Regions from separate parts of the Homo sapiens genome. Here regions 1, 2 and 4 are each linked to region 3. The links come from fine-mapping of genetic effects on gene expression. A gene starts in region 3. Each other region holds a variant in brackets. All regions are shown on one strand. Distances are between the middles of the regions. Region 1 overlaps ERCC6L2 (ERCC excision repair 6 like 2). Region 2 overlaps ERCC6L2-AS1 (ERCC6L2 antisense RNA 1). Region 3 holds the start of ERCC6L2-AS1 (ERCC6L2 antisense RNA 1). Region 4 overlaps ERCC6L2 (ERCC excision repair 6 like 2).

Evidence for each region. PIP is the estimated chance that this variant, and not a neighbour inherited with it, causes the effect.
Region 1: its variant is fine-mapped to the expression of ERCC6L2-AS1 in prefrontal cortex (BrainSeq, PIP 0.95).
Region 2: its variant is fine-mapped to the expression of ERCC6L2-AS1 in fibroblasts (GTEx, PIP above 0.99).
Region 4: its variant is fine-mapped to the expression of ERCC6L2-AS1 in whole blood (INTERVAL, PIP above 0.99).

Annotation. Positions count from the first base shown.
Region 1 is chr9:95,970,639-95,978,748 of GRCh38, forward strand. It overlaps ERCC6L2 (ERCC excision repair 6 like 2), which reads left to right. Exons shown (of 19, transcript NM_020207.7): 15 at 1-18; 16 at 1,295-2,450; 17 at 7,423-7,577. Among named protein-coding and RNA genes, the nearest start is that of LINC00092, 47 kb to the right of the region's middle. The variant T/TTTTG (reference allele first, on the strand shown) is at 4,084.
Region 2 is chr9:95,805,596-95,813,705 of GRCh38, forward strand. ERCC6L2-AS1 (ERCC6L2 antisense RNA 1) reads right to left here. Exons shown (of 3, transcript NR_023390.1): 3 at 493-8,110. Among named protein-coding and RNA genes, the nearest start is that of ERCC6L2, 66 kb to the right of the region's middle. The variant C/T (reference allele first, on the strand shown) is at 3,817.
Region 3 is chr9:95,871,960-95,880,069 of GRCh38, forward strand. It overlaps ERCC6L2-AS1 (ERCC6L2 antisense RNA 1), which reads right to left and starts at 4,018. Exons shown (of 3, transcript NR_023390.1): 1 at 3,906-4,018. It overlaps ERCC6L2 (ERCC excision repair 6 like 2), which reads left to right and starts at 3,732. Exons shown (of 19, transcript NM_020207.7): 1 at 3,732-4,125. The coding sequence starts at 4,080. RefSeq lists enhancers at 2,903-3,032, 3,263-3,312, 3,353-3,452, 3,587-4,461, 3,593-3,822 and 1 more.
Region 4 is chr9:95,925,373-95,933,482 of GRCh38, forward strand. ERCC6L2 (ERCC excision repair 6 like 2) reads left to right here. Exons shown (of 19, transcript NM_020207.7): 10 at 2,707-2,778; 11 at 3,347-3,492. Among named protein-coding and RNA genes, the nearest start is that of ERCC6L2-AS1, 53 kb to the left of the region's middle. The variant G/A (reference allele first, on the strand shown) is at 3,603.

The sequences.
Region 1 (8,110 bases), 99 kb after region 3:
GCACACAAACTGGAAATGGTATGTAATATTTGAACCTGTAGACTACAACACCTAGAAAACATGTACTGTGACAATTTTGTTTCTTTTCCTTTTTCCTTAATTTTATAACCTGTAAAAAAAAAAATTAAGAGTCAAGGACACAAAGTCAGAGGACTATGGATAAAATTAATAATTAAGGCTGATTTAACATTCATATTATAAGAACAAATTCAGGAGCAGTTCAGGCATTTACAGCTAAACTGAATTTTAACTACACCAAACTGTAAATCCAGTACCACCTAGATAACTAACCCATCCCAAATAAATAATTTTTGACTAAATGGTAAGTTAAATGGAAAAATCACCATCAATGTGTATTTAAAATTATTGAACCCAAATATCAAAATTATTCTCTAACCTGAAAGTAGATATTTGATTCCTTAATTTTGTGATCTTTTTAGTAGCTTGTCATCTCATGTACCACCAAATCTTTATTTCATCATAAGGCCATCTTAAAGGTAAAAAACATGTGTGGAAGGTTTTTTTGTTATTGTTGCTGGTTTTTTCTTGTTTGTTTTTAGAGTCTTAACTATCAATTTATACCAGTCCAATGAGTTTAAATTGGGGATGAAATTTCTATAAATTTAGAGAAATATATGAATCTCAAATATTGGCAAAAGTATTATCAGATAATACTTTCCGCAATATTTTACTAGTAGAGCCTCAGTTTTAGAAAACTAGGTTATATTTAACTCTGATTAATGTGCAAAGGTTACATATTGAATTTAAATTTGTAGCAAATTTTACTTCAAAATTCTTTATTTCTGGTGATCAAGATCCTATCGGCCTTTTTAATCAATTAGAACAATTTTCCAGTCTTGAATTCTTTACCTTGTTAACTCCTGTAATCTGTCTTATTCTTAAAGCGTGATTGGAAGCATCTGCTAGATGACAGTAAACTCCAGTAATTCTTAAGCAGTAAGTTGTATGCTTTTCACTTTCGAGGCCAGAATTATGTGTCCTTGCATCTTAGAAGCCAAACACTCCACTTTGTGTTTTTCTTCAAAATACTTTGATTATATGGTACTCTAGTTTAAATTTTTTTATTTTGCAACAATATTCAACATGGAAAGAGAAAAGACTACCAGACTATGATATTAAATCCTTAACATTTGTTTATTAAATGTTGTACTTTTAGAAAATATTAAGTGATATACTTGTACCTAAATTACCTGCCCAAAGTTGAGTACTTTTCAGTTGATTCCACATTATATCTTGAGGTTTTCTGATGTTTTTGTCATTGTTTCTCCTATAGCCTAGACAGCCTGACTGTCAGGAATGCAGAGGTACAGAACAAGCTGCAGAGCCACTGGCAAAGGAAGCATGTGATCTCTGCAGTGACTTCAGTGATGAAGAGCCAGTGGGAGCCACAGGAATAAAGACTGCCAAAAACAAAGCACCCGATTCAAGTAAAGCTTCCAGCTCTCCAGGACAGCTTACCTTACTCCAGTGTGGTTTCTCGAAATTGCTTGAAACAAAATGTAAAGCAGTTGAGGATAGTGATGGAAATACTGCCTCTGATGATGAAAGTTCTGATGAGCAGCCCACATGCCTTTCAACAGAAGCCAAAGATGCTGGTTGTGAGAAAAATCAGGACTCTCTTGGTACTTCAAAACATCAGAAATTAGATAACATCCTAAATCCAAAAGAAAAGCATATTTTTTATAAAAGTGAGAAGATTTTAGAACAGAATATTTCTTCCAAGTCTGACGAGAAAAAAATTAAAAATACAGATAAACATTGCATTTTACAGAATGTCACAGAATCAGAAGATAGTGATGTCATCTGTCCTACACAATACACAACTGAGAGATTCCCCGACAATAGTATAAGGTTTAAGCCACCCTTGGAAGGATCTGAGGATTCTGAAACAGAACACACTGTAAAAACAAGAAATAATGATAATAGTCGAAACACTGATGACAAAAGAAATGGAATAATTTCAAAAAAGTTAAGTCCTGAGAACACAACCCTGAAATCTATTTTGAAAAGAAAAGGCACCAGTGATATCAGTGATGAATCTGATGACATTGAAATTTCTTCCAAGTCAAGAGTAAGAAAGAGAGCTAGTTCATTGAGGTTTAAGAGAATAAAAGAAACCAAAAAAGAACTTCACAATTCTCCCAAAACAATGAACAAAACAAACCAAGTGTATGCAGCAAATGAGGATCATAACTCTCAGTTTATTGATGATTATTCATCCTCAGATGAGAGTTTATCCGTCAGCCACTTCAGTTTCTCTAAACAGAGCCACAGACCAAGAACTATAAGAGACAGAACTAGTTTTTCTTCAAAATTGCCTAGCCATAATAAGAAAAATAGCACTTTTATTCCAAGAAAACCAATGAAATGTTCAAATGAGAAAGTTGTTAATCAAGAGCAGTCGTATGAATCAATGGATAAATTTTTAGGTAACTAAAGACACATTCTCAAAACTTTAAAAAGTATATTTGTTTTATCAAATAGTTCTGTGAGACGCTTTGAATTAACTTGTAAAACAGCCCTAAAATCAAGATGCTGCATTGAGGCACAAATAAGGAACGGTTGGGTAGCAGGATAAATGGGAGACCACATATAGGTCAAGATAGAGAATGTTGCCATCTACCCCAGGACCCCCTCCATGTGCCCATCTAAATCACAGTTCCTCTGCCCCCATAAATACCAATTATTCTAGCCTCTATAGTAATTACTTATTTACATTTATATGGTTTTATCACCAAATGTGCATCCCCAGGTGAATTAATCTGTTTTCATGCTGCTGATAAAGACATACTTGAGACTGAAGAAAAAGGGGTTTAATGGATTCACAGTTCCACATGGCTAGGGAGGCCTCACAATCATGGCGGAAGGCAGTGAGGAGCAAGTCATGTCTTACATGGATGGTGGCAGGAAAAGAGAGAGAGCTTGCAGAGGGGAACTCCTCTTTATAACACCATCAGATCTCATGAGACTTATTCGCTATCATGAGAACAGCATGGGAAAGACCTGCCCCCATCATTCAGTTACCTCCCACCAGGTCCCTCCCATGACACATGGGGATTGTGGGAGCTACAATTCAGGATGAGATTTGAGTGGGGACACAGCCAAACCATATCACTAGGTATTATGGTTCAGTCTCATCCATTTTGTAAAAATATTATATAGTCTTTTTTAATCTACAGGAATCCTCATCCCTTTCATTGCCTTACAATGTAACTATGGAAGTACCTGGACCATCTCTTACAGAGTTTCCCTCAGTTTGCATTTTGCTAATTGTACCCTCTCCATGCAGTTAAACATGTTCTTCTGTCTTCTATATTACCTGCAAAAGAGCAGTTGGTTCCTGAGACTGGATCAGACTCAGGTTCAGTTCCTTTGGCAAGATATAAGTTAGTGTTTAACAAGACTATAGTAGGCACAAAATGTTTATTCTCTCTCTTTATGATCCTAGCAGCCATTGATACTTAATACCTATACTTATTTATTCATTCAGAGTAGCAAAATATTTTCTCTTTCTTTCGATTTCATTTTCATTTATTTAGAATGCTTTTGTAAAGAGGTACTTCACTACTTCCCTTCATTATTGCTTACCCAGTGGCGCAGTTCATATGGGAGAGACAGGAAAAATGCTAATTGCTTTCTTTATTTACCAGTTTTTAGTATTAAACTAAATATGTCTATATGCCATAAGGATGACCCATTCTTTTCTTAGTAATTGATTCAAACACATTTAGTGGGTCTCAATTCATTGCAATTAATAATATTATTAAGGCTCCATTGTCCTATCTGTGGATAGAGGGGAATCTCTGACATGAATATTTTGGTTCCTGAAGCATTTTGGCATGCTGCTAGTCATTTTGGAAGCTTCCTTGTAGTCTAGTCTTACAAGAGGTTCCAGGAACACCTCATACATTTTCTGTCCCAGACCTACAATCAGTCATTATTCCAAGAAGTCTTGGTTTCTTTTAGAGAGAAAGTGTGTTTCAAGACCACAGTCTGGTGCTAGTAATGAACATTGCTACTGTTGACTTGGTTATTATTTTTGGGCCTTTTCAGTGGCCAGAT[T/TTTTG]TGTGTGTGTGTGTGTGTGTGTGTGTATTTTATATTTATACACATATATGTGTATGTATACGTATATTTGTGATATATATTTTATATATGTATGTACACATATGTGATGATAAAATACCTCGAGGTTATACGTCCATATTTGTATTGATACTTAATTTGAGAGTATAGAGCTCTTATTTAGCCTCTTTATTATATGTGAATACCATTTCTACAATATTGATAATTCTGGTTCTCAAGCATATAGGGAATGATTTACTTTTAATGCCCCATGTTTGCTCATTTGCTTTATCCCATATTACACAAAGAATAAAATAACAGTACTACCTCCATTTGATTGCTGGTAACATTTAGGGTTTATCTGTTTTTGCCTCTACTCTCCCTTTTCTTCCATTTTAAAAATGGATATACTATGTCTTCATTGTCAAAGATACATTGCATTGTATACTACTCCCCTCTTAGACTTCACTTAACTGTTGGTCCACAGGTAACTACACATTTCATGCTCCCCATCAGTCCTTAATGTCAGTCTTCCTCGCATCGTTCTGGTTGTCTGAATCTTACTGTCTAGTAGATTGCTCAAGAAGTGTTCATGAGAATAATATTCCCTGAGATTCTTGCAGTAACAGTTTTGTGCCCTTATACCTAAAAGTTTTGCTGGATGTAAAATACTTGGCTCACATTGTCTTTTCTTGAGCATCTTAAATATGTAGCTTTGTTTTCTTCTGGCATAAAGTGTGGTATTATATGTTCTTTTTTTTTTTTTTTTTGCCTCTCCCTGGATGCCCAGGGGGTTTTTTTCTTTTCATTGTTGTCCAATAATTTTACTAGCTTGTGTCTTCATGTTGGTTATCCTGGGTCCATATTCTGATATACACAGTGTTGTTTTCACTCAAATTTTATTTTGGGAAAGATTTGCTTGTACCAGTGTTTTTAGTTACTTGTTCTATTCCTTTGGTTTGGCTTTCTTCTTCAGGGACTTCTTTTCAGATGTTCAGTCTTCTTTGCCTATCTTCAGTTTTTGTCACATTCTCTCAAATCTTTATCTGTTCATTTTGTTTTGCTTTTTTAAAATGTTGTTTTGTTTCTCTTAAGGCTTATCTGTTGTGTTTATTCCCACTTATGTTCCTTCTAGTTTAGTCTTCATTTTTGAAATTTAAAAAAAAATTTCTAAGTCTTTCCTAAGTTCTTATCACTCATTTGAGTTGCTCTAATTCTGATTTACGTTGATTCATGTCTTTTTCTGTTTTGTGAGCACATCTTTCTAGCACATTTTCATTGAAGGGATATTACTCTGCTTGTTCTCTTTTTTCTCACAATAATTTTTTTGAGATTTGACCCTGCTGCTTTTCCCTTGGTCATTTTTATATGAAATTATTTCCCCTGAATTTTACAAATGAAGCAGAGCTTAGGAAATCTTTTCTCACCTCACAGAGATCCGTATGTTATTTCCATGTAGAGTGCTGCACTGTGGTGGGCTTTCCTCTCGCTCTCTCTCCCTTGCTTTGCTCTAGGTCTTTTCTTGCCCTCATCCTTGTTCTTCCTATCCTACTTATTTTGATTCTCTCCCAGCAGTTTTTCCTCTTTATTGGGCCCTGACCTGGGTGGGAGCCCTGGTGGGTCAGTTTGGGGAGTTCTAGTGGTTGGCCTGCTCCAGCCCCTCCAGGCCTTCTTACTGTGTCCCCTCTGCACCCTCTCAGCATTGAAGAGCAACAAACCTTCCCAGATTCAGCTGCTGTTCTCCAGCTGGCCCCTTGTGCTTTCCGGTGAATACCTGTTGGCAGTTCTGGGGTCTCCTGTTCTTAGGTCTGTCAGGTACCCTGTTGCTTCCTACTTTCACACAGATACTGAAACCATGCAGAGTTCATAGCTAGTGGAGATTTTCCCCACCTGCTTGTACTTTAGGTGTCATGAGGGTATCTTGTTATCTAATTTTGTTGTAAATGTCCATGGGCTTTTGGTTTTGCTGTCTAGTTGCTGTCTGCTTTTGTGTACAGATTCAGAGATTCTCCTGCTTCTTCTGCTGTTACCACCCTCTGCCCAGAATCTGTATGGTGATTTTAAGAGTTAGCATTGCCTTCACAAGTGTCTGACTTATTCCCCAAAAACTATATGAAAGAAGCTGAGATATAAGCAAGGACATTTTGCTATAGAAATCTTAATTTTTGTGTTTGATTATATACAAATGAGGCTTTCTTTGTGGCTATTAGCATTCTCGTTTAAGAGTTAATTATGATTTATATCTTGGTGTCATTATAAATAAGTACTGAATTACCCTTTGGTTGGTGTGCTACAGTTAGATTTTAGGTTTGAGGAATTATTGCATAAACTTTTTTAAATAATCAACTCAGTTTTTTGTTTGTTTGTTTTTACTGTGTAAAAGGTGTCAGTAGTTAATTTGGAACTAATGCTATTTTGAATAATGGTAACGTGTCATCAAAATTAAGAAACATCTGAGTAAATTTTCTGCCATGAAGGTTTTGAAACTGTGTGCCATGTATAGTACCTGGTATTCTGAAATGAAGGAGAATGTTATGCTAGTTACTGTCTCATCATATTATTTAACAATGTTTTGTGTTTGCATGATTGGCAATTTCTGATTGAAGAGGTTCAGGACTAAAACAGCACAATTGTTGAAGGTCATACCTGAGGTTCATTGCCAGAGCTGTTGCAGGGAGCTTTTACAGGCCTTGGTTCTAGCTTTCTCTTTTATGATCACAATTCAAAAATGAATTATAGGTGCCTAGAAGCAAAGCAATAAAAATTGTAGCCATTTTTTAAACCTCTTTCAGATAAAAGCCATGAGTTAATTTTTTTCATTTCCTAAAAAGCTCTCATCTTGACATTCTCTGGGCATATGTACAAAAAAGACAAAATACAAACAGTAAAACTGAGCAAAGCCAATCAAACGAAACTCCCTGGTCATAAACCCCATGCTCTCATTCCATCACTGTAATCAAGTACATGTTTAAAGGAACAGATAAGGTTAGTTTCATTCTTTAAATTAGTGAACATCTTTTTTTTTTTTTAATTAACAATGAAAACAAATTCATAGAGAGGACCCTACTCAACCCTGACTTTTCTTTTGGCCAAAACCTCCATTTCAGGTTTAAAGATTGTTACCTATCAGTAGTTCTCATCTCACATTGATGAGAAGGAAAAGTCATTTCCAAGGTAACCCAGACTAACATATTTGAACTCTTTCTCTTTTCAATATTTTTCCTAAAGAATATTGTGATGTTGATGTTTCTCTTGAGTATTAAAAATAAGAATAATGTGTTTTTATGGAACCATATTGCTTTATACTGATACATCACTTAATAAACATAAATTACCTCCTAGATGGCGTTCAGGAAGTGGCTTATATTCACTCAAACCAGAATGTAATTGGATCGAGCAAAGCTGAAAATCACATGAGCCGATGGGCAGCACATGACGTATTTGAGTTGAAGCAGTTTTCTCAGCTGCCTGCTAACATAGCTGTTTGCAGTTCTAAGGTAAGAAAAATATAGGGTAGTATCATCTTTAGTTACCTCATTTTTCACAGAAGTTACTCAATAGGATCTTCTCTAAGTACTCCCTCAAAAGTAGCAACAAAAACTGTAAGTGACATACAAATAAGTGTAAAAATCAAAACACCATTTGGGAACTGTAGTCATTGAAGACGTTTTAGATTAAACAACAAATTTATACCCAAATACCTAATCATGTTGAGTTGCTTAATAGTTTCTCTCAATAAAAATTGGCCAGTACTCCCAAAATGAAAAGGAATCTGAGGGAATCATGTAGTTCAATCAGAACCAAAACCATTTCTGCTTATATGGAAAAAGGAAAGTGTGTGATTAGGTTGCTCCACAATTTTTCACCTAAAATGAAGACCAACATAGAAAACTCATTTCATATAGAATTTATATTTTTAGCAAAAGGGTTTTTATACTGTTAAAAGTCATAAATACTTCCTATGGGCTCTTCCCACTTAAAATTGCTGTTGTGATATTTTTGTTTATACATAGTCACTTTCATCAAAGGT
Region 2 (8,110 bases), 66 kb before region 3:
GAAATGACACTCATGCAAGAACTCTTTCAATTTGATATGTGAAATAGGCTGGCTCTGGGATCCAGTTGAGTTTGGGTATAGAAAGTTGTTTCAGGGCCGGGTGCGGTGGCTCACACCTGGAATCCCAGCACTTTGGGAGGCCGAGGCGGGTGGATCACGAGGTCAGGAGATTGAGACCATCCTAGCTAACATGGTGAAACCCCGTCTCTACTAAAAATACAAAAAATTAGTAGGGCATGGTGGCGGGCGCCTGTAGTCTCAGCTGCTCGGGAGGCTGAGGCAAGAGAATGGCGTGAACCTGGGAGGCAGAGCTTGCAGTGAGCCGAGATCACGCCACTGCACTCCAGCCTGGGTGACAGAGTGAGACTCTGTCTCAAAAAAAAAGAAGGAAAGTTGTTTCAAAGTGTGATAAACTAGAATTAGGACTTTACAAGGCTAAGAGAGAGAAATTTCAAAAAATGTTGATGCATAATGATTTCAGGAGAAAATACATTAAATGTGCATAAACTATAGACAGAATTTATTTCCAAGTGTTTTTCTTTGATTGTACATATTTTTTTCAGAAACTTTTGTGAAGTTTAAAAATTTACTCAAAGATATCATGCTTTGCCACATTTGTAAAGAAATACTGCCAAAAGAGACATTTTAAGATGCTGAATTACAAACGCATACTGCATGTTTTCATGAGGTAGTTGTTCAAGCCATTCTACATTTCCTGCCCTCTACCTGATCATTTTGATTCAATGGTTAAAATTAGTTGAACGCAGCCCTGAGCATTCAAGCAATACACAGTGCCATTTTTTTCTCCCGTAACCTCAGGCCGCACTGCAGATAACGCAAAGCATACACGCTCCACTCAGACTTGTTGATTAACTGATTGATTATAAAGCAGGCTAGAAGTTCATTCTGGTGTATATCACTCCATAAAATTAGTGATCATCTCAAAAGTGATTCTAGTGTGCATTCAACAGGGCCTAGGCAGTAATTCGCACTCAATTTGAGGTTTTTCTCTGATTAAAAATAGACTTTTCTGTCTTCCTTGAAGTTGAATTTCAAAGACAAGTAGCTGTGGTTGGTCTGTAAGAAGGAAGCCAGTCAGTTAGATTTGCATTTGCGACTTAGGAAGGACTTTCGTGCCTGATGGTGAGGGAAAGGGGATGTGGGGGTGTGTTGGACAGGGACAATGGGCTTGCATGAGGCCAATGGTTCTGTAAGTTTTCCAAGAGTTCTAGGATATTCAAAAGCATTTTCTTCCTAGCAAATGATGCCTCAGAGGGTGCCAAGTCTCACCATATTTATTCAGACTACTTGATGTGAGTCACTTTGGGAGACAACTTCCAGGAAGAATATTTTAACAATTTTTTTGTAGGAGTTGACTTTTGCCACAAATGCATTTCAATTAAATATACCCAAATATTTGCTGAGGAAATACCCGGTCAGGTCATAGTGGAGTCTATGCATTTCACACCAACTCCATCACTGGTCATATTACTGAAGTTCTCTCCGTTACATCAGAATGGCGACTCATTAACTTTTATGAATTTTCTGAAAAAGATTTTCCTCTCTCTGGGTTCTTATGAGTCTCTTTGGAAACTTGCTCCTGAATTTTATCCCTCTCTTCAATGCTAGCTTAGTTTTAACACCAGTTCAGATATATTTGAAGTAGGTTGCGGGCTTTTACCCTCCATTGCCTATTTTGGTCGTGATAAACTTAGTATTTCTGTTTGTACCAACTCTTGCCCCAGTCCTATTTCCGTCTGCTGCAAGATGTTGTGGATCTACATCCAAAGTGAGAATTTGTTTGGCCCGATTGTGCTTGTTAAAAGCCCTGAAAGTTGGTGTGTTTATTGTCTTTTGACTTTGGAGACTCCAGGCTCAAGTACCTCCCATGACCTTTCGTTCCTGTGTATCCTTGTATGTAAACAGCTTTGCAGCAGCAAAGCTCCAGCTCTCTGTGACCTTGGCAGCAGGGCAGTGAGCAATGGTTTCCAGAGCAAAGTCTCTTTCTGAATACATTTTGCTCCACATCTCCTGGTCCCAGTAGGGTTGTTTTCAGCACCAGACATGTCATTTCTCCTCCACGTGATCTTATTTTTAGACGAGCATCTTCAAAAGAGCAAGCTGGAAGATAATTTGCATGCATCTTTCCATCATCTTTCATTTCTTGTTTTCACCAAGTATAAAGACTCTCATTTTCTCATGTCTTTGGGGTATGTCTCTATGTTTAGCCTCCTTTCAGGAGAAAGATATTTCTACCTTATTCAAATGGCTTTTGACTTAGATCTTTCTATCTTCTCAAATCCCAACATCCTCATCCTGAATCCTTAGGAAAGGTGCACAGCTGGTTTCTGCCTTCAAACAGCAGTTTTTGAAGAGAAACGTTCCCCTGATTTCCACCCATTGCCTGCCTGCCCTCCAGCTCCCAGCCCAACAGCTGCAGGGCAGACCACGTCTGAGCAGAGACCCGGCAGGGACTCCAGAAGGGGAAAGACCTTGTGCTTGGGGTCAGGGCAAGACCCAGAGGACATCTACCTTTCTGAACACCATGGCCCCTTCAGTAGGATGCCTTTGCAGTCTGAATGTGGCTTCCTGGGAACTATTTAAAACCTTTGCCTTGGGCCATTCTGGCTTTTTGCCCAGAAAAAAATGCAGATTAAGGGAAGAAGTCCAGAATGCAGCAAATAATACTTCAGTATTGTCCCATTTAAGCATGTGTTTTCCCAGTATAGGATTGTTCACTAATCATGTCTAACCATGGACAGTCCTCATCTGTCCATAGTCTCACAAGACTACAAGGTCCGCCTGCCCCAGTAAATGTTTGTGGGACTTAGAATCTCAAGAAGAAAAAGTATGAAATATATAAGTGGCAAAGTTAACAGAGTTTACAGGAAGAGATCAACACTGGCTAACAGGAGTTGGGGAGGCATTTTATACATGAGGATGGGATAGCTGAAGGGTGGTGAGAGTTTGTGAATAGAGGAGGGCAACCTAGGTTTCATGAGCCAAGGTGTAAATTGGTGGGCAAGCTCTTGGGGATAGAAAGAGCAAAGGCCTGGCCTGAATGGAGGGTTTGTGTGAGGGAACATGGGAAAATCATGTCTAATCCCAGAGTTGTCAGATTCGCAACATATTGACAGTGGTTTCTATTCTCTGTCTCCTTTTAATTCTCTTGCATTTAATATTTAGATGGGATGACTTTTGTCTGACTGCATTTCCCAAACCTCCCCGCTTCCAACCACATAAATCAAAGCAAGATTAGATTTTGGATTTACTTTTCTGTATGTTCGGCCACTAGAATCCTCTAGATTTTTCACACATAGGAGTTAAACCCAGGGATTGTCCATAGCCATGCCACAGATCACTGGGGGCATGAAAGACTCTTCTAGAACCTGAGCCTGCCCAAAGCCAAGTCCAGTAGCAGACACCATGTAAATGACAAATGAATATCTAGAATAATCAGGTTAGGTTTGCCTTGCTATCATTATCATATATCATATTCCCAATTTCTACAGCTGGATCATTTATCTTTTATGATCAATCACTGCACTAAACCAATGTGTTGATAATCATTTTTTTCAGGTATCTTTACTGTTCAGATTGTTGGAACATGTAACCAGCAAGAATATGAGGCATCATTTACTTTCTTAATCTCTGGGCTTATTTAGCCATTCACAAATATCAGGCTCTTTTAAAAAATATTGGTAGCCTCTAGCAGTTAGAAGGAGGTGAAGGTCTAGGTCCTTTCCCTCCCACTACCTCACCAGGACTTGTTTTTAAATGAAAGCAAGTCTCAGACCAAATTCTGCCTCATACACA[C/T]GAACATTTATTGGGAGGTAAGTACAAAAATAGCCATGCAACCTCCTCCTCTCATTCTCTTGTCTTTTTAGGTACTTTGGAAAGCATCTTGCAGGAAATATTTACTTTGTTGTGGTCACAACAAAATTTTAACATCAGAGTAGGTGACAGAGATGACATAGGTGGCTCTCCATTAGGTGGGGACCATAGGACAGAATTCTATCCATAAAGAGAGAGAGATTCTGTCACTCCAAAGGTGGTCAGCTGCTGGGTTTGCCAGATCAAGGGAGGAGGTGCCAGTGGAAGTCTCTTCAGCCAACTACATGCCTTAGCATCACTCATTTCTTCAAAGAAAATTTCCTTCTAACAACCCCTGTGATAACAAATAAACCCTCTAGGGCAGATGGAGAAGGACTATTTAAAACCTTTGCCTTGGGCCATTCTGGAACCTAAATTAAGATTAGGGTTTGTGAGTCAACTACTTAAACTCACACAGTTTTTCCTCTGCTCTTACGTAAAAAAAAAAAAAAAAAAAATAGTGAACACAGAAGACTTCAGTGACAAAATGTGGGGGTTTCCCCAGACACCAAGCAGAAGACACAAGCTGAGTGTCTAATTCAATTCAATTCTGTGGCTCATGCCTGTAATCCCAACACTTTGCGGGAGGATTGCTTGGGGCCAGGAGTGTGAGACTAGCCTAGCCAACATGGAGAAACTCTATCTCTACTAAAAAATACAAAACTTAGTCAGGCGTGATGGCATGCACCTGCAATCCCTGCTATTTGAGAGGCTGAGGCAGGAGAATCGCTTGAACCTGGAAGGCAGAGGTTGCAGTGAGCCAAGATCAAGCCACTGCACTCCAGCTTGGACGACAGAGTGAAACTCTGTCTCAAAAAAAAAAAAAAAAAAATTCAGAGGCTATCTACCTGTAGATGGCCTCAGATCCCACAGGTTAAGGGCTCAGTACCCTAAACTGATCTCCCTTTCAGACACCAGTCACAAGTTGGGGCCCCTGGAACATCTGCCCAACTGACTTCAAATTGGGGCTCCCACCACCCACTCTTTGGGTTTGATTAATTTACTAGAGTGGCTCACAGAAGTCAGGGAAACATAGGTTTACTGGTTTATTATAAAGGGTATTACAAAGGATATAGATGAAGAGATGCTTAGAGGGAGATACGGGGGAAGGGGTAGGGAGCTTCCATGCCCTCTCCGGGTGTGCCACCCTCTAGGAAGCTCCGTGTGTTCAGCTATGCAGAAGCTCTCCAAACCCTGTCCTTTTGGGTTTTTATGGAGGCTTCATTCTGTAGGCAGGATTGATTACATCATTGGCCATTGGTGGTCAACAACCTTTCCACCCTCTCTGGTTCCTGGAGGTGGGAGTAGGGGGCTAAGAGTCCCGACCCTCTAATGCTGCCTTGGTCTTTCCTGTGACCAGTCCCTGTCCTGAAGCTACATAGAGGCTGTCAGCCACTAGTCAACTCATAAGCATACAAAAAGACACTATCACTTTGGAGATTATAAGGATTTTAGGAGTTGTATGTCAGAAAATGGAGTCAAAGACCAAATATATATTTGACAAAATCACAGGGTTCTTGACATGTTAACCAACAAATGCTGACTAATCACCCTGAGGCACAGATGAAAGCAGGGTAGTTATCATCTGGTTTGCCTATATTTTAGGTTCTTCTCCCTGTAATCTTCAAAAGCTGTCCTAAGCCACCTTGAGTAAAAACCTAGCCCAGGTTACACAGTATGCTGCTGTACTCCTGCCACTTCCCTGCTGGGCCCCTGGCACCTCCCAGCCCCTCTGTCATCATAATGAGAGCACCACTATTGGATTTCTCCTAAAAAGAAATGTAAGAGCCACACGCTGGAATCCAAATTCAAACGACTGATTTCCCAGAGACCCAGAGGCAGCTCCTTGGATCCACACAGAGTAGATGCTGTGAAGCAACATCTCAGGAATGAAAAATGTGTTCCCTGAGCTGCCAGGAGTTCTGCAGGGGCAGGCCTCACTTGTCAGGCCTCTCCAGAATTGCCCAGGCTGAACACAACAACTTCACCTGAGATGACACCCCCAAGCTGTGAGTTCTTGGAGCAGTCACATTGAAAGACTCACCAATACTGGGCCCCCTTGCCACAACACTTCTGAAGTTTGATCTCAGCTCCAGAACACCCACCTTCTTCCCTGCTCAATCCTGCTTCTTTCTCGTTGCTCACAGATGTTGATCCCAAGAGTACTCCCCAATAAACCTCCTATGCACTAATCCCCATCTATGGGTCTGCTTCATACCTTCTTTTGGAACCATTTACTCTAAAACCATAGGCTTGCAGGGATGCCCACTCATCTTTGCAGCATGTGCAGTATAACCATCCTAGAAAAGTTGCTGGGAGCATCCTGATCTGGAGGGACCCAAGGTATGGCACCAAGCAGGTGTGGACTCTCTGGGGTCCAGTCCATCAGCACCGCCTCTTCTGTGGATGCCTGCATTCTGCTTCAGGACCCTGGTGTCTGGGTTTTGATTGTGTCCTCAATTGTACAAAAGATGATTTTTAAGAACCATGTCTTATATTTAGTTTTCATTTGTATTGAAGTTGTATATGCACCTAGTTGAAAGAATCAAATGATTCTGCAAAGCTGATGTGACAGAGACTGCTGGTTGAGCACTAGCATCATTCCTCACCTTCTTTAATATCAGGGCTCCAGTGTCTTAGCTGAGCACGTGGCTAACAGCTAGACCCTATGCTTCCCAGCCTCCCATGCAGCTGTGGTCCTTATGCCCACATCCTGACCGATGGATGTGTGGCCCTTCTGGGGCATGTTCCTATCAGTTATGCACATGTGCTCTCCTGACCCTGTCCTCCTTCCCTCTGGCTGGGAAGACAAAACTAGAATGGCTGCCTTAGTCCCACAGGTGGAAGCTACGTTTTGAGGATCATAAAGGTGACTTTCCAACCCAGATTGCTTCTCTTGAGATCATATCAAACAGAGAAACTTATACCTACCTCATTTAAGCTTCTGTATTTTGGTGTCTTTTTGCTAAAGCAGCTTAGCCTGTAATTTCATCCATATTGCTTGTTTAAACAAACAAACATACAAACAAACAGTCTTCTCCATCCTCTTTTCTTTTTCCCAGAAGCACCACCATATGTTTAAATATTACATTTCTATTGATATTTCATGTTTAGGCATTATCTATTTGAGTTTCCAATTTGGAAGATGAATATTTCACTGTCTCCTTCTCTCCCACCTTCACCTCAGCCTCCCTTCTCCCATGCATACTCAGCACCCACTCCTCCATATTCCAAAAATACTTATGTTGTAGTTTTGGATAGATCAATAGATATTTAGTATTTATACAATCATGATACTGCAAGTGGTATATAAAACAGTGTACGAGCCAGGCGCGGTGGCTCACGCCTGTAATCCCAGCACTTTGGGAGCCTGAGGCAGGCAGATCACAAGGTCAGGAGATCGAGACCATCCTGGCTAACACGGTGAAACCCCATCTGTACTAAAATTACAAAAAATTAGCCGGGCGTGGTGGCAGCCACCTGTAGTACCAGCTACTCGGGAGGCTGAGGCAGGAGAATGGCGTGAGCCTGGGAGGCGGAGCTTGCAGTGAGCTGAGATCACGCCACTGCACTCCAACCTGGGTGACAGAGCGAGACTCTGTCTCAAAAAAAAAAAAAGTTACGATGGATGTTTTGACTTTCTTGAATAACATTTTGTTTTCCCTTTGAACTTTTATTCTTTATATTTCCTTAGCATCCCATTTGCTTGCTATTAATTCAACCCTAAACAGTGTCCCTATTGTGTGATCTCTCAATATATTCAAACACACTGGGGATATCATTAGCTTCATCTGTTTGAAGAAATCTTCCTAGGGCTTTTTTTTTTTTTTTTTTTTTTTGAGACAGAGTTTCACTCTTGTTGCCCAGACTGGAGTGCAATGGCACAATCTCAGCTCACCACAACCTCTGCCTCTCGGGTTCGAGTGATTCTCCTGCCTCAGCCTCCCGAGTAACTGGGATTACAGGCATGCACCACCATGCCCAGCTAATTTTGTATTTTTAGTAGAGATGGGATTTCTCCATGTTGGTCAGGCTGGTCTTGAACTCGTGACCTCAGGTGATCCATCCGCCTTGGCCTCCCAAAGTGCTGGGATTACAGGCGAGAGCCACCGCGCCCAGCCCCTAGGGCTGAGTATGGTTCCCTCTGGATTGGCTGCTCACTAAGCCTGATGAGTGTGTGTCCCATCTGCCATCTTATAACTGGATATGAGTCTTGGTTCTGTGTCTTCTGATTGCC
Region 3 (8,110 bases):
AAATGTTCTATTATTTGAGTCTATTTATTGAGTCTATGAAGTAAAAATGGTGTTGGTGAATATTCAAGGTGTAATGATATTCATTATATGGGACCATGATATACTTCTAACACTGACTCTATATATCTTTCACTATACCTCATTCAAGCCTCAAATTTTCCTTTCTTTGGCCGGAGCTTTTTTGTTGTGTTTTGCTTTTTAAACTGTGATAAGAAAGAACATATTATATAAAATGTACCTTCTTAACCATTTTTAAGTGTACGGTTTAATAGTGTTAAGTATGTTCACACTGTTGTGCAACGTTGAGTTTTAAACTTTAAGATTTAGGTTATTTGTGGCAAGGAAGGACAGGTCTATTTTATCTTCTTTCTCTTGCCTTCACTCATCTTTGCTTCCTTATTGGCTGGAACGACGTATGAAGGGAGAAATGCTGCAACCTAAAATCATCTAACTAAAACTCAAAAGACTTAATTTCTTGTGTTGTCTTAGAGTTTCATATCTATTTTTTTCTGGAGCCTTTTTGCTAGATTAACTCACAATTCTGGAGATCTGTCAACCACATACAGATATATATTTGACTTTTGCAGTGTGAAGATAAAGAGAGACTATTTTTTGGCAAATTATTGGTGGGTTTAATCATCCTTCCATGAGCCTGTTTTGAAATGCCTGTGTTATCACCATCTGTGTTATTTTTTTCTCTTTTGTAGTTTTAATTGGCTTAATTTTTGCTAGATCCTCCTTTGCCAAAAGTTTTGTATGTGATTCAGTTCATTCATGTGATTTATCCAACATCACACATATTAACTACAGGAATTCCTTAATATTTTACAAGATATTCAGTTTAACTTTGAAGTGACTGGTCTGACAGCGTTAGATGTTCACAATATCAGCACCTAGACAAGGATGTCAATGCAAAGACAAAAGCTACTGGGGGAAGGAATATTTGAGAATGTCTAACTTTATGAGGCAACTAGTTCACTAGGACATATTTTCATGTCATGATTATTTCTGCTTCAGTATACACTGTAAGTACAGCAGTGAGGTTAAATAATAAACACTCAGAAAATGAGGGCCGGGCGCGGTGGCTCACGCCTGTAATCCCAGCACTTTGGGAGGCCGAGGCGGGCGGATCACGAGGTCAGGAGATCGAGACCATCCCGGCTAAAACGGTGAAACCCCGTCTCTACTAAAAATACAAAAAATTAGCCGGGCGTAGTGGCGGGCGCCTGTAGTCCCAGCTACTTGGGAGGCTGAGGCAGGAGAATGGCGTGAACCCGGGAGGCGGAGCTTGCAGTGAGCCGAGATCCCGCCACTGCACTCCAGCCTGGGCGACAGAGCGAGACTCCGTCTCAAAAAAAAAAAAAAAAAAAAGAAAATGAGGTATCCTCCTCTTTTGTTAGTCACAAGGGTATTCCTTCAACCAGATGATACCTCCCATTTAAATCAAAATTTATTTCTGAATTTGCTTATCACTTCTATTAAGAGGTCTGCTCTGTCAAGAGCTACATCTTAACTCAATGGACCTCTGGAAAAATAAGACAAAATTACACAACTAGTCATTTCAGAGAGGGGAAAAAAATCAAACTTCTTCCCTGGTAGTTGTAGGGGAAAAAAAGAAGCTTGATTAAAATTTCAATTTGCCATTTTGATTTTAGAGACAATGTGAAAAGAGATATAATCCATCAATAACAAGCAGCAGATTTTTCTAGATTTTAAGATTTCCAATATCAGGGTGCATGTCAGAATCAAGAATTACAATTATAATTAGTAGTGTTTTTCGCTGTGTCGCCAGATTAGAGTGCGGTGGCGCAAACTCGGCTCACTGCAACCTCTATAGACCTCCCGGGTTCAAGCGATTCTCCTGCCTCAGCCTCCTGAGTAGCTGGGACTACAGGCATGTGCCACTACGCCCAGCTAATTTTTGTATTTTTATTAGAGACGGGGTTTCACCATATTGGCCAGGATGGTCTTGATCTCTTGACCTCATGATCCGCTCACCTTGGCCTCCCAGAGTGCTGGGATTACAGGCATGAGCCAACCGCGCCCGGCCTATTAGCCAAAATATTAAACTGACATAATGGCTATGTAGAATGCAACTTTCAAGTGGATGCATTCCATTGATAATAATAGTAATAACAACACATATATTCCTTACTATGACCAGCTACTGTTTTAGGAGTTTTACTTAATTATCTAATTTTTTACAATTACCATTTTTAGGTAGTTTACTATTATTAGCTTCACTGTAATGGTGATAGGTGAGTACAATAAAACACGGAGAAGTGATCTGGCCAACAACTCACACATAGATGGCTGAGTTAGATGTTTCACTTAGGCTTAAAGTTATTGCCTGCTGGTAAGCAAACAAGTCATATTTTAAATGAAGCATTTTATGAACACATACTACTAGTTTTTAGTATCTGCCATAGAATTGAGATCTATTTGCAAACAGCCATATTGTTTTCTTAAGACACTACTGTAGGCAGAATAATGATCCCCCAAAGATGTTTATCTCCTAATTTCCGGAATTCGTGAATATATTAGCTTACATGGCAAAAGGATTCTGCTGATGTGATCAAGGGCAGAGACCTGGAAATGGGAAGATGATCCTGGATTACTCAGGTGAGCCCTCAGAATCTTTTCCAGCTGCAATCAGCGGTAGACTTGAGGATGGAAGGTTCAGAGAGATGGCATATCACTGGCTTTGAAGATGGAGGAAGGGACCAAAGCCAAGGAATGTGGACAGAAGCTGGCAAAGGCAAGCTAAGGATTGTCCTGTGGAGTCACCAGAAAGGAGTGCAGCCCGGGTGACACCCAGGTAGCACTTCTGATCTACAGAACCGTGAGATAATAAATGCATTGTCTGTCAGATGATAAATTTGTGCTGTTTCAAGCTACAAAGTTTGTGGTTTTTGGTTATTGTGGCAATAGGGAACGGATACAGGCCCTGTCAGGTATTTCACTCAATCCATGAAATACCTTACAGTATACAAATTTTAACATGCGCGGGAGCCACTTACGGATCCGTCTATCTGTGCTGCCTGGGAGTGTCAAGAGGCCGTGTCCTTCATTCACCTCGCGCGTGGGCGGCGCTGCCCTGAAGATGCTCCCGGGCTCAGTGCAGACGGCTCAGCGTTCTCTCGCGTTCAACGAACCGCCAGAAACGTCAGATGGTACGGAGGAAAACACTTTACACTTTAACAGTATTTTTACGTTTATTTGCAGCAAATGTTGTTGGCTTTGTATTTAAAGTATTTATGACTCACTATAAAGTGTAGGATCCAAGAAAACGCGCTAGTTTCACTTGGCCCCCGTGGCTGTCCCGGGGAGCTCTCCAAGGAAGGACTGGTTCCTGAAGTTCCTGGGGTGCTGCACCACCACGGAAGAACCAAGCTCCACAGAGAAGCCAGAAGCCGCGACCGCGGGGACGCTCTCTGCCAGGCCTCCACCGCCTCAGCGGCCCTTTACAGCCACCGCATTCTCCATGCCCCCAGTTATTTCTAGCTTCGCACAGCGCCCGGCCCACCGAGCGACCTCAAACCTCGCGACACTCGCAACTCCCGAGGCCCTTCCTGCTACTGGCCTCAGAGGGAAGAGACATCGGGAAGATTGCTCCGCCCACAGAAAGGAAGATTTCGTTCTCGCGAGATCCCAATGACAATTCGGGAGCCCGTTCTCGCGGGATTTTCCAAGACCGGGTTGGAATTTGCGGGGGTTAGGAGACGGAAGTCAGAGCCTAGGAAGATTTGGGGGTCGCCTTGCCGGCCTCCTGTCCTCCTCCGGCGGCGGCGGAGCCCGAGAGAACTAGGTGAACACCGCTTTGCCAGCCTCACACAGCGTCCCCTGGCTCTGCCGCCGCTCCGGACGTCGCCCTCCCGTTCTGCTTGGGTCCCCTTAGTCGCTACCTTTGCTGGGATCCCCCTCCTCCATCCTGTGGCTTCGGGTTGCCGAAGAGCGATGCTCGGAGGGCGGCCGGAAGTGGCGTTGGCCGCCATTGGCCTGCCGGCCAGCCACCTTGCTGTCCTCCGCCGCCTTCCGGGTGTTACATGCAGCCGGGCTCGGCCCCTCCCCCTGGCCGGATGGATCCGTCGGCGCCACAGCCCCGCGCGGAAACCTCAGGCAAAGGTACCAGCTCCGCGCTCGCCCCTTACGCAGAGGCCTGTGTACTGCGTCGCGTTGGACCAGTTCTTGCCGGTGCCCTTCGGGTTGGGGTTTTGCCCTGTAGATCCTCTTCAGTGACAGCTGCAGATTGTGAACCCCTCCAGGCCTGGAACCAAATCTCCGATTCAGTGTTGAGAACCTGGACTCGGGAGTCAGCCCCTGGGATCTAGTGCTGCCTCTGACAGTTACTTGCTGAGCAACTTTGGGCAGGCTCCTCATCTGTAAAACTGGGTTCATTACTAGGTTCTTGCGATTATTAAATGACGTGGGGAATACGCAAAGTATTTATGTGACCCCGCGTGTGGCCCATATTAAGCACTCAGTAAATGTTATTTTCATTCTTTATTCTTGTATGCCCCAGTTGTTAGTGAATGGCAGAAGTTTGTTGTAAGTAGATAAATGAAGGTTGAGATATTTAGTTCAGTTGAGTTTTATTGCCTATTGAGTCAGGGCATTATATTCTGCCTTAAATAGGAGGTTTAAAGAAGGTGTGATTATCTACCACAAGTCACCTGGGATGCCTTCTGGCACCCAAATGAGTAGTTTTCATTAATAATTGTGCTGTATAACAAAAGCTACCAGGTATTGAGTGATTTTCCTGAGCCCAGCAATATGCTGATTGTTTACTTGCTTTCCTTTGAGGAAGATATCGATCTCATTAAATAGATGAATTCAGAGCTAAAGTTCAGAGAGGGCAAGTTACAAGCCTGAATTCTGAGGTCTAGGAATTGATGACGCTGTAATTCAGGGACCAAACATATAAATACCTATAGGAGACTGGCAGCTAAAAATAGATGAAGCTGCCGAGTGGATATTGTGACTGGGAGGCTCATTCCTTTTGATAAATCTAGTCACTCTTGGTATTTAGGGAAATTGGTGGAAGGAGCAGAAAGCTCCAGGGCCCCGAGGTGGGAACACCCTTGAGGAATGCTTGAGGAGGCCTTTGGAGTGAAAGAGGGAGAGAGAGACCCTATCACCAGAATGAGTTGAGTTGGTAATTAGTTTAAACCAAAACAAATGATTTCGACTCATTAAATTTTAGGACACTTAACCCATTTCCCTGTTAAATCCAACAGGAAATCTTAACAATTTAAGCAGTTGTTCTGTAGTTTGGATACTGAGAGATTCCATTTCTAACTCAACTGAATTTATTTCGTCCTAGAAATTATCCGAACTCAAACCCAAAATACTCCAATAAGTTGTGTGATTCCCTTAAGGCTTTTTTTTTTTTGCACATGCTGTACACTTATCTGAGATACAGTTCTTAGACCCCTTTCCCTTTTAAATTACATTTCTCAATACTCCCTTCTCATAGCACTCTTCTTCCAATGCAGTTTTTACAGTTATGTATATGTTGGTGTACTTTTTAGTTTTCTCGCAAGATATCAAGGATTTGTGAGATTGATAATTTGTAATAGGCCAGGCGCATGGCTCACACCTGTAATCCCAGTACTTTGGGGAAGCTTAGGCGGGAGGATAGTTTGAGGCCAGCCTGGACAACATAAGCGAGACCCTGTCTCTACTAAAAATAAAAAATTTAGCCAGGCATGGTGGTGCACACCTGTAGTCCCAGCTACTCAGGAGGCTGAGGCGGGAGGATGGCTGAGCTCAGGAGTTGGAGTTTACAGTGAGCTATAATTGTGCCATGACACTCCAGACTGGGCGACAGAGACACTCTTGTCTAAAAAAAAAAAGAAAAAAAAAAGAATGTGTAATAAATTCGCATGTTCACTGAATGTCTGCTGTGTGACTCTGTGTTGGTCCTGGGGATAAAATTTATAACAGTACAAACTTTTCTTGGAAAGGAAATTACTCTCTACTGGAAGGAAAAGACAAAAAACCAGTGGACATGATAATTAAATGTTATGATAAGTGCTACAGAGGCAATAAAATGATGAGATAGAGAATAATGGGTACCCTACGCTAAATAGGTGGACTGGGAGCAGAGAGACTGGTTAGGCATAATTTAGGGAAAGTTGATGGTGGCATGCTTTAAGACAGAGGTCTGCAAACTACTGCCTGTGGGCTAAAACTGGTCTGACACTTTTTTTTGTAAATAAAGTTTTATTGGAACACAACTGTGCCCATTTGTTTATGTATTGTCTGGTTGCTTTTGCATTACAAGGGCAAGAGACTGTATGGCCTACAAAATCTAAAGTAACAAATAGCTAATAACTGACTCTAGAGAAAATGTTTGCCAGCCTTTGCTTTAGAGAGATAGTGGCATGGAGGAAAGTGATTCATTTTTGAAGTAGAACCAGGATATTCTGATGGATTGGATGTAAGGAGTAATATTAAATGAGGTTTAAGGGCTGACTAATGGTTTTCTACCTTGAAAAGTTGGTTAGATGATGATGCCAGTTTTTTGTTTTTTTTTAAATGCCAGCTTTTTTTTTTATTATACTTTAAGTTTTAGGGTACGTGTGCACAATGTGCAGGTTAGTTACATATGTATACATGTGCCATGCTGGTGTGCTGCACCCATTAACTTGTCATTTAGCATTAGGTATATCTCCTAAAGCTATCCCTCCCCCCTTCCCCCCACCCCACAACAGTCCCCAGAGTGTGATGTTCCCCTTCCTGTGTCCATGTGTTCTCATTGTTCAATTCCCACCTATGAGTGAGAATCTGCGGTGTTTGGTTTTTTGTTCTTGCGATAGTTTACTGAGAATGATGATTTCCAGTTTCATCCATGTCCCTACAAAGGACATGAACTCATCATTTTTTATGGCTGCATAGTATTCCATGGTGTATATGTGCCACATTTTCTTAATCCAGTCTATCATTGTTGGACATTTGGGTTGGTTCCAAGTCTGCTATTGTGAATAGTGCCGCAATAAACATACGTGTGCATGTGTCTTTATAGCAGCATGATTTATAGTCCTTTGGGTATATACCCAGTAATGGGATGGCTGGGTCAAATGGTATTTCTAGTTCTAGATCCCTGAGGAATTGCCACACTGACTTCCACAATGGTTGAACTAGTTTACAGTCCCACCAACAGTGTAAAAGTGTTCCTATTTCTCCACATCCTCTCCAGCACCTGTTGTTTCCTGACTTTTTAATGATTGCCATTCTAACTGGTGTGAGATGGTATCTCATTGTGGCTTTGATTTGCATTTCTCTGAGATGATGCCAGTTAATAAGATGCAGGAAGACTATTAGTCACCATCATTTTTGACATTAGTTTTCTTCATTTTATACCCATTGTGTGGTATAATATTTGGTGAATAATTTGTGCTTAAATCACATATGTTGAATAATAGATAATAAAATAAGTCTTAAGAAATGATAGGGTAGGCAAACACATAATGGGAAATATAAGTAATGTGTTAAGAATTGCTGTAAGGGTTGCTTTAGGTTTTAAGGTGCAAATAGTACTGTTATGAAAATTGGGCCCATTGACCTATATGTTGTTCTACTTGTACAGTGGATCGAGGCTTTAGTTTGACATTAAAACACTCTTTTAGAATGGTGTAACAGTTGTCAACAGTTTGGGTCCAGAGAGTAGAGTGGGAGAGAAGGTTTTTCCCTCTGTACTCATTATTGTTATGGTAAAATAACCTCATCAAAGTTAGTGGCTTTACTTTTAAGGAACAACTGATGGATGAGGAATTTAATGAGCTATTCTTGCTTTAGATAGTATAAACATGTCATGTTGTAGTTATAAATATCTAACTGGAGGTCATCAGGAAGACCCTAGGAAACTGCCAGTGGTTATCTGATCTCAGTGAGAAATGTATAGGAAAAATAATTCCTAGTGTTCTTATGTTTGTAGCCATAGAATTATTTTTGGATTCTTGCCATAAGAAATTCCATTTGGAAAATTATTTTTACTTAGTTTTCTTTATTTGATACTTTTTAATTGTACCAATAGTATACTGTGGACTCCCTCCTCATTCATAGTGGTATATTTTCTGGGAAAATAAAATAGCTGTATGGTTAGTCA
Region 4 (8,110 bases), 53 kb after region 3:
GGGTCATGTTCATCTTTCTAGGCCTGACTGACCAAGTTGAGGAAAGTTAAGATCCAAGGTTCCTTGCTGTTAACACCCCCAAATAATACGATTCCTTTATAGGTGGATTGTCTTGTTCTGTGGAGGACAACTGAGTGATAAAACATTGGGTCTATATTGTTAAGACTCCAACATCTGTTGATTACATTGTCATTTTGGAAATTTCTGGGATCTTAATTTATAGTCGTTCATTTAGTTAGTCTCTTTAAACTAGCCTAATTAAGATCTCCAGTCTAAAAACATTTACTTTTCCTGTGACTTGTTTTTGTTTTTACTGTAAAATACTTGAAAACACTTAAAGTTGCAATAGTTATGATACCACCCCAAATAATGAGAATGGATTTCTATACAATATATCCTTGGTTTAAAATGTTAATATCTTAAGAATGAAAAACAAACCACAGACTGGGAGAAAATATTAGCAAAACAATAAAGGACTGGTTTACAAATATACAGGTAACTCTTAAAGCTCAACAATGGGAAAGCAAACAATCCAATTGAAAAATGGGCAAAGGATCTGAACAGGTACTTCCCCAAAGAAGATAATAGAGATGGCAAATAAGCATGTGAAAAGATGCTCAACAACATATGTCATTAAAGAATTGCAAATTAAAACAGCAAGGAGATACCACTAGATACCTATTAGAACGGCCAAAATCCAGAACACTGTCAAGCCCAAATGTTGGTGAGGATGTGGAGTAACAAGAACCCCCATCTGCTGCTGGTGGGAATGCAAAATGGTATAGTCACTTTGGAAGACAGTTCAGTGGTTTCTCACAAAGCTCTTAACTAAAAAATATTACCTTAAATAGTCTTACTATATGATCCCGCAATTGTGCCCCTTGGTATTTACCCAAATGAGTTATAATGAATTAAATTTTATTGAGTTTTAATGAGTTAGAAACTTACATCCCGACAAGAACCTATGAGTTTATTTATAATTGCCAAAGCTTGGAAACAACTAAGATGTCCTTCAGTAGGTAAATGGATTAAAAAAGCTGTGGTACAGCCATACTGTGGAGTACTATTTAGCAATAAAAAGAAATGAGCTATCAAGCTACCAAAAGACATGGAAGAACCTTAGATGCATATTGCTGAGTGAAGGAAACCAGTCTGAAAAGGCTACATACTGTATAATTCCAACTATATAATACTATCAAAAGGCAAAACTATGGAGACAGTAAAAAGAACAGTGGTTGCTATGGGTTCTGGGGGAGGAAAGAATGAGTAGGTGAAGCACAAGGAATTTTTAGGGCAATGAAACAATTGTGTATGATACTGTAATGGTAGATACATGTCATGATATATTTGTCAAAACCCGTGAACTATGTAACACAATGAATAAACCCTAATGTAAATTATGGACTTTAGCTAATAATAATGTATCAATATTCACTCATCAGTTGTTACAAATAAACCACACCAATACTAATAATACTTGATGTTATATTTTCTAATAATATTATTAATACAGATATTAATAAGAGAAAGTGTGGAGGAGGTTGGAAGTAGGGAAAGAGGAGTTTTGTGCATTTTCTACTCAGTTCTGTAAAACAGAAAAAATAATATCTACCAATTTAAAAAGTCTTATGTGAAATTCAAATTACATACTTCATATAGAATCAGTTATTTTATTAAAAAATGAACTAAATGCAAATAAAACTTCATATGTTCTCCAAATGTGAAAGTAATGTTTACCCGATCCATAACATTTTTATTTACCATTTGATAAATAAATTTGGTTATCTGAGTAGAAGTTTTTTTTAACTCCATAGCTTTTTTTGAGGGACTAGGGGGAGGTAGAGGTCAAAGTTAGCACAATAGCTTCTCTTGATTGAGTAAGTGTTATATTGAGTATTTTTTTTATTTAAAAGCTTAAATGTTTATCATTAAATAAATTGTTTTAGTGTTTGTTTCATCTTTCAGAAGAATTTAGACTTTGTATAGAAAATTTCTTTTTCCCCTCTGTGGATTGCTTTTCCACATTGTTCTGGAGCTGTCATTGCCAGATGTGGAAATAAAAGTAACAGTGTGACTGTTATACACAAGGCTTTGGACTGTTTGTTTCCTCCCTGAAAGCACTGTGTGTGGGGGCAGATTACTGGCATTTTGAGGTCAAAATCAAATCTGGAAGTCAGAGCTTACTGTAAATAGAGAAACAAAGGGGAGAAAATGAGAAGAGGTGTGTATCTGACTGATTATTCTAAGAAAATAAATATCAAGACTTTTAGAACCTAGATGTAATTGAACACATTTCATTACATCCATCTAGGGACAATTTAAATACTTCCTAAAAGGAATGCTGCTCTATAATTTAGTTTCTTAGCATATTGTAGGTATAAAGAAAGTGTATTTTGGAAATTAAATTAATCCATTTAAATGCATCCCATAATCCAAAATGCTTCCTTTTTATTAAAACCAGATGAGATGAAATAAAAGTCTTTGGGAACTTTACCTCCTTATTGACAATATGATGATGAATAACATTTGATGTAATAGCTAATACTTTATTTCTCTAACTTGGAAAAAATGAAAGGAATTAGAAAAAATGAATGAGGTTAGTATTGTATGAAAATAATTTTAAAGAAATTCTCAAGTGATGTTTATATGTATAAAGTGTACTTTTAGTTGGAACTGGTTCACTGATTTTCTGTGGTTCATTTTCAGGTCCTTCAGCAGCTTTTAAATCATTGCAGGAAAAACAGAGATAAAGTTCTTCTCTTTTCTTTTTCCACCAAGGTGAGTTCATCTAAAGTATATCCTTGATTGGCCAGCCTCAACTTTTGAGGCATAAAGAATAAAGCATATGCCTACATGACACCTTACAGCCACATTTTCTCTTATCTACACAGTAGGAAATAGTGAGGTAAGCAACTTGAAGTTTTTAAACAGACACTAAAATTTCAATTGTTTCAGGGTTGCTAAATATCAAACTCAAAGATAGATTTTTATTTTCTGTTGATGTTCTTAATAATTACAATGTTCTTTAAGACATTTCATATATTTTAGAACTTAAAAAATAGCATGCATATATTTATGTAAATGATTTGACCAGTAATATTGTTTGTTTCTTAAAAATGAAAAGATTGATTTTTAAAACAAGTTCTGAATGTTAAAGCCATAATGTTGCAGGATAACGGGAATAAATATATGGGTCAGAAGTGAGAAAAATATTTATTGTTCTTGGAATTATAAGAAAGAAATTATGAACACCAATAATTAATACTTAACAAGTCTCAACTTTGTAATGGTCTGAAACTTACTTAACCAAGATTCATGTTTGCCCATCTTCATACCTCTCGTCTAGTTGCTTGACGTGCTACAGCAGTACTGTATGGCGTCTGGGCTTGATTACCGACGACTTGATGGAAGTACAAAATCAGAGGAAAGACTCAAGATTGTAAAAGAGTTCAACAGTACACAAGATGTTAACATTTGCCTTGTCTCTACAATGTAAGAAAATTAAATTTAATAACTAGATTTTTATCCAATTGTTTTTGAGATTTAGCATAATTTTTAAAACTATTACTGGATTAATTTTTAATGGCTATGCTTATTTAGAA[G/A]CAGCAAAAATACTATTATGACCGAAATTTCAATGTCTTAAGTTTTAGCTAAGCTTTTCTCTCATTTCCTTTATCAACATTGAATTCCTCTTAGAAGTCTGGGTTTATAAAGGTAACAATAAAAAAATTGATACTTCCTCCTATGAATTTTCCATGGTAGTGTTTTGACCCAAGTCTCCTGGTGAGAATAATCAGACTTCTTATTAACTGGATAACTGAGACTCACTGTAGCAGCAGTTTTCCCACTGTGTCAGGGAGCCCTTGAGAGCCCACTGGGGCTAGGGGCTCACGTTTCCCTCCTCTGCCTCTACCTCATCTCAACTGGAGCAGCTCTGCAGTTAGAGTTTTTATGAAAGGTAAATTGGTTCTAACCCCTATGTATGAATATCCCTTTAAGACCTTTTAGAGAATATACACACTTCTGAAAAGATTTAAATCAACATAAACACCTAAGTAAGATTAATCCCATTTTAGGAAGGAACAGATCAATAACTTTTGACATCCTGTGTAATAAGAATTTTATAGATTCACTCCCACTGTCTTTCAGAATTTCAATGGACTTTAAAAATAAACATATATAAAATGCACAAAGTAAAAATTAAATCAGAATAGAAATTAACTTAAAATGAGGAATAAAATATACTTATGAATGAGCCAACATTGTTGAGCACTTTAATTATTCTTGAATTCCTACCACTAAGGCAAATGGGGAAAAGCTTTGGATTCCCATTTTCCTATAAAGGAATGCAAGAAGTAATTTTTTTCATGCGTCCTTACATACAGAGCACTAAATGACATAGAATACTGTGGTCAATTAAATTTCATAAAACATATAAGCATTCTAACTTTAAAGTGTTTCCAGTTGATAGATGCACTAAACAATGGTTCCAATAATAGACTCTATAATGACAAGCAGTAGTCTCTTATCCTTCTTCTGCTCACTTCCAGCTCATTTGCTGAGATCCTCCATAAAGTTCCTAATTACCCCTTCACCTCTATCTGTCAGAAACTGCTATTTAACCTATCCATTGAATTTTTAATTTTAATCATACTTCGAAAAACATCTTTTTGGATGGCATTTTTGCTCTATTAACTCCTGTACTTGGTGGTGCTGATCCTTCTATTTGTTGTTTCCTCTGGCTCTTGCTTATGGTTGATAGTTTCTTCATGTTTGGTCATTTTTTTTCTTTTGAGCTTATCTTCAATGGGATTTTTTTCCTCTGGAAATCCTTTGGAGACCGGTTGTAGGAGTTTTCTGCTTGTGTGGTTTTGCTTTGGCTTCTGCTGGGCATCCTGACAAGACAAGGGAAAAAGTTTTGGATTCCTATTTTTCTGTGACAATTTGAGTAATTTATTTCATAAGTCATTATATAAGGAACCTTATGTAATATAATAAATACATTCTTCAGCTGTGTTTTGCAAAAGACACATAAGCTCAGTTTTTGTTTAGTTTCTATCATTTTGCAAGGGTTTATATTTAATATGTTGTGACAGAAATGTTTTCACATTGGCTTAGCCATTATCTTGCCAGAGTACAAAGTCTTCATTATCTTTTAGTTTATCAACTTTACATAAGTTGGAACTTCTCTTAAGAAAGATGATTAGGCTACTTTCACTACTCTCTCCCCGTTTTTTTCTCACAGTGTTTGCTATTTTAAAATTATTTGTCTATAAACTACTTTTGTAACTTTCAATCTTTGTACTTCTGCATTAGATCCATTGAATTTTCTCTTAGATCTTTTTCCTGGATCCCGTGTCTTCTTCTTTCTTGGTTTGCCGCCATGTTTTACTGGAAAATGATTCAAGTTTTGATGTTTGGTCCATTAACTTTCCACATGCCTTCTAAGTCTTTGTAATGTGTGGTATTAGCATTAGCACACACCCACCCACCCTTCTACTTTTGTCACCTATACATATTATGTTAACTATTTTAACTTTTACTTTGTCAAGGGTATTAATGTTTTCAATAAGCCCTGTACCAGTAACCGGTTATTGTCCATAGGTTGGCATTAAAATTTGAAGGCAAAAAAGCGTTTACATTACTATGTTTTTATAAACTAAACATCTTTAATGCAGGGGCAAGTAGTGCTAAGATAATTTTTCTTAATGTTCACGACCTTTTGGTCAATGCAAGATCAGTCTTAACATCAACCTCATATGACTTCTCTTTCCTAAGACTTCATCCATGTTTTATGTTTGCACTGTTCAGTTCACTTCAAATTTCAATCATGACTTTTTCGGTCTTTTCCCCCTCTCAGTCTGTTTCTGCCCTTTGTAATAATCCTCAATGTTACTAATTCTCATTCACACATTCTCTTCTGTTGAGTCCTCTGTATCCTGAACCTGCCTCCTGAAACTTTTATTCCTTAGTTTCAATCTGGCCCAGTTTTCTAGGCCTGATAAAGAACTGTCATGTTGAAGCTTTCTTTCACTGCTCTTCTGTGTTGGATCTTTTTCCTGGGTTCCATGCTGTTTTTATTCTTGACTTGCCCCTTTGTTTTCCTAGGAAATATCCTCTGGTAACTTTTTAAGCCAGAATATATAGGAAGTAAATTTTCTGCATCTGTAAATACAGAAAATGTCTTTTATTGCTCTCTCACTTAATTGATACTTTGTCCAACTATATAATTCTAAATTGAAAATCATTTCCTCTTAGATCTTTGAAGGGCTTGCAGCATTGTTTTCTGATAGATGGTGTGGCTAAATAGATGTGCAGTGCCAATCTGATTTTCATTCCTTTTTGGGAACTCGTAAGAGTTTTTCTTCATCTACACTATTCTAAAATTTCACGGTGATATTTGAGTCTTGGTGTGGATCTTCGTTCATTTTTTTGTGCTGGGTACAGTAGGCTTGTATTCTGAAGGCTTATGTTCTTTTTCAACTCTGGAAAATGCTTTTTTATTATTTCTTTAACAATGGCCTTTTTTTTTTCTTCCTTTTTCTCTGCTCCCTCCCTCTGGCATGCCAGGTCATCAGACTTTCAAACTTTCAAACTATATTGGTTCTTTAAATCTCTGAACTTTTCTCTCAGACTTTGTCTTTTTGCTCTGTTCTGAGAAATGTCATTTTTCGATCTTATTATTTTGTTTGAAATGATCACTTTTTTTTTTTTTTAAGACAGTGTCTCACTCTGTGGCCCAGGCTGTATGGTGCAATCTTGGCTCACTGCAACCTCCGCCTCCCGGATTTCAAGCAATTCTCCTGCCTCAGCCTCCCGAGCAGCTGGGACTACAGGCCTGTGCCACCCCACCCAGCTAATTTTTGTGTTTTTAGTAGAGACAGGATTTCACCATATTATCCAGGCTGGTCTTGAACTCCTGACCTCGTGATCTACCTGCCTCGCCCTCCCACAGTGCTGGGATTATAGGTGTGAGCCACCATTTCTGCCATCACATTTTTAATCTAAAGTTTTTCTTGCTTTCTGACCTCTTTTGTTTTTGGAGTTACCTTTTGTTTTAGAACATCAGTGTGTTAAACTCTAGCTTTTTATAGTCATTTCATTCAGTTTATTTAAAGAATGATCATCTGGCATTTTTCCTGGGGTTTGTTTTTTGTTTTTGGAGAATCAATGAATTTATTAATGAGTTTGAGGAAAATTGGAGTTTTTAAGGTATGAAGCCACCCTATCCATAAACATGGTATCTCTTTATATTTATTTAGGTTTTCTTAGAAGCATTGTTCAAATGGATACTTCGTTTGACCTTTTATAATACTTAATACATAATAATAAAACTTATTTCATCAAAGACATGTTTGTAGAACATTAAGATGTAGTTAAGGTGTACTTTCTGATATACTTATTTGATACAGGAAGAGCATGTGGCAGACCTAAGGAATAAACAGCCTGCATACTCATTAAGTGTCTCAAATACCAGTCCTCAGTTCGAAAAGAGCAATATTAAAATTTTTTTTGCTTAACAAGTAACCCTTTGCTGTTAACCATGTAAGAACAGAGTGACAAGTTTTAAAGTTTAGGTTTCTGAGTTGTATTATCATCAAAGGGAGAATTATCTCATCTGCAGAGAGAGAGAGAGTCTAGGGCCTTTTTCTTCTTCTTTAAAGGGAGCTTTGCTTCTTCAGCAAGGACTGAAGTTATTACTTCAGAATCTCTTGGAAGATTGCTACCTCAACTAGTAGAGATCTTATCTGTGGCTCATATATGGCATCTGAGATGGCATCATACATGGTTATGCCTGACCTTGCCATCAAGAAGGTAACTGGAACAGTTGATTAGATTTATTCAACATAGAAACCTTTAACTTCGTTTCTGCTTTTTTGCTGTCTAAATTCCACCCAATCCCCTAACTTATCCATTTTTTTAATCCTTTCTAATACTTTCTCCCTATCCCACCTCATTCTTTTCTTAGAGTTCAGTCAAGTCTCTATGACATCTTCATGGTATGTCTAATAAGCAGTTTTCCAAAGGAGAAAATTCAGTTTCTACTGAGCACTGAACTTTCAATCAGGACATTTGGGTTTGAATCGAGACACTTGCTACTTAGGAGACC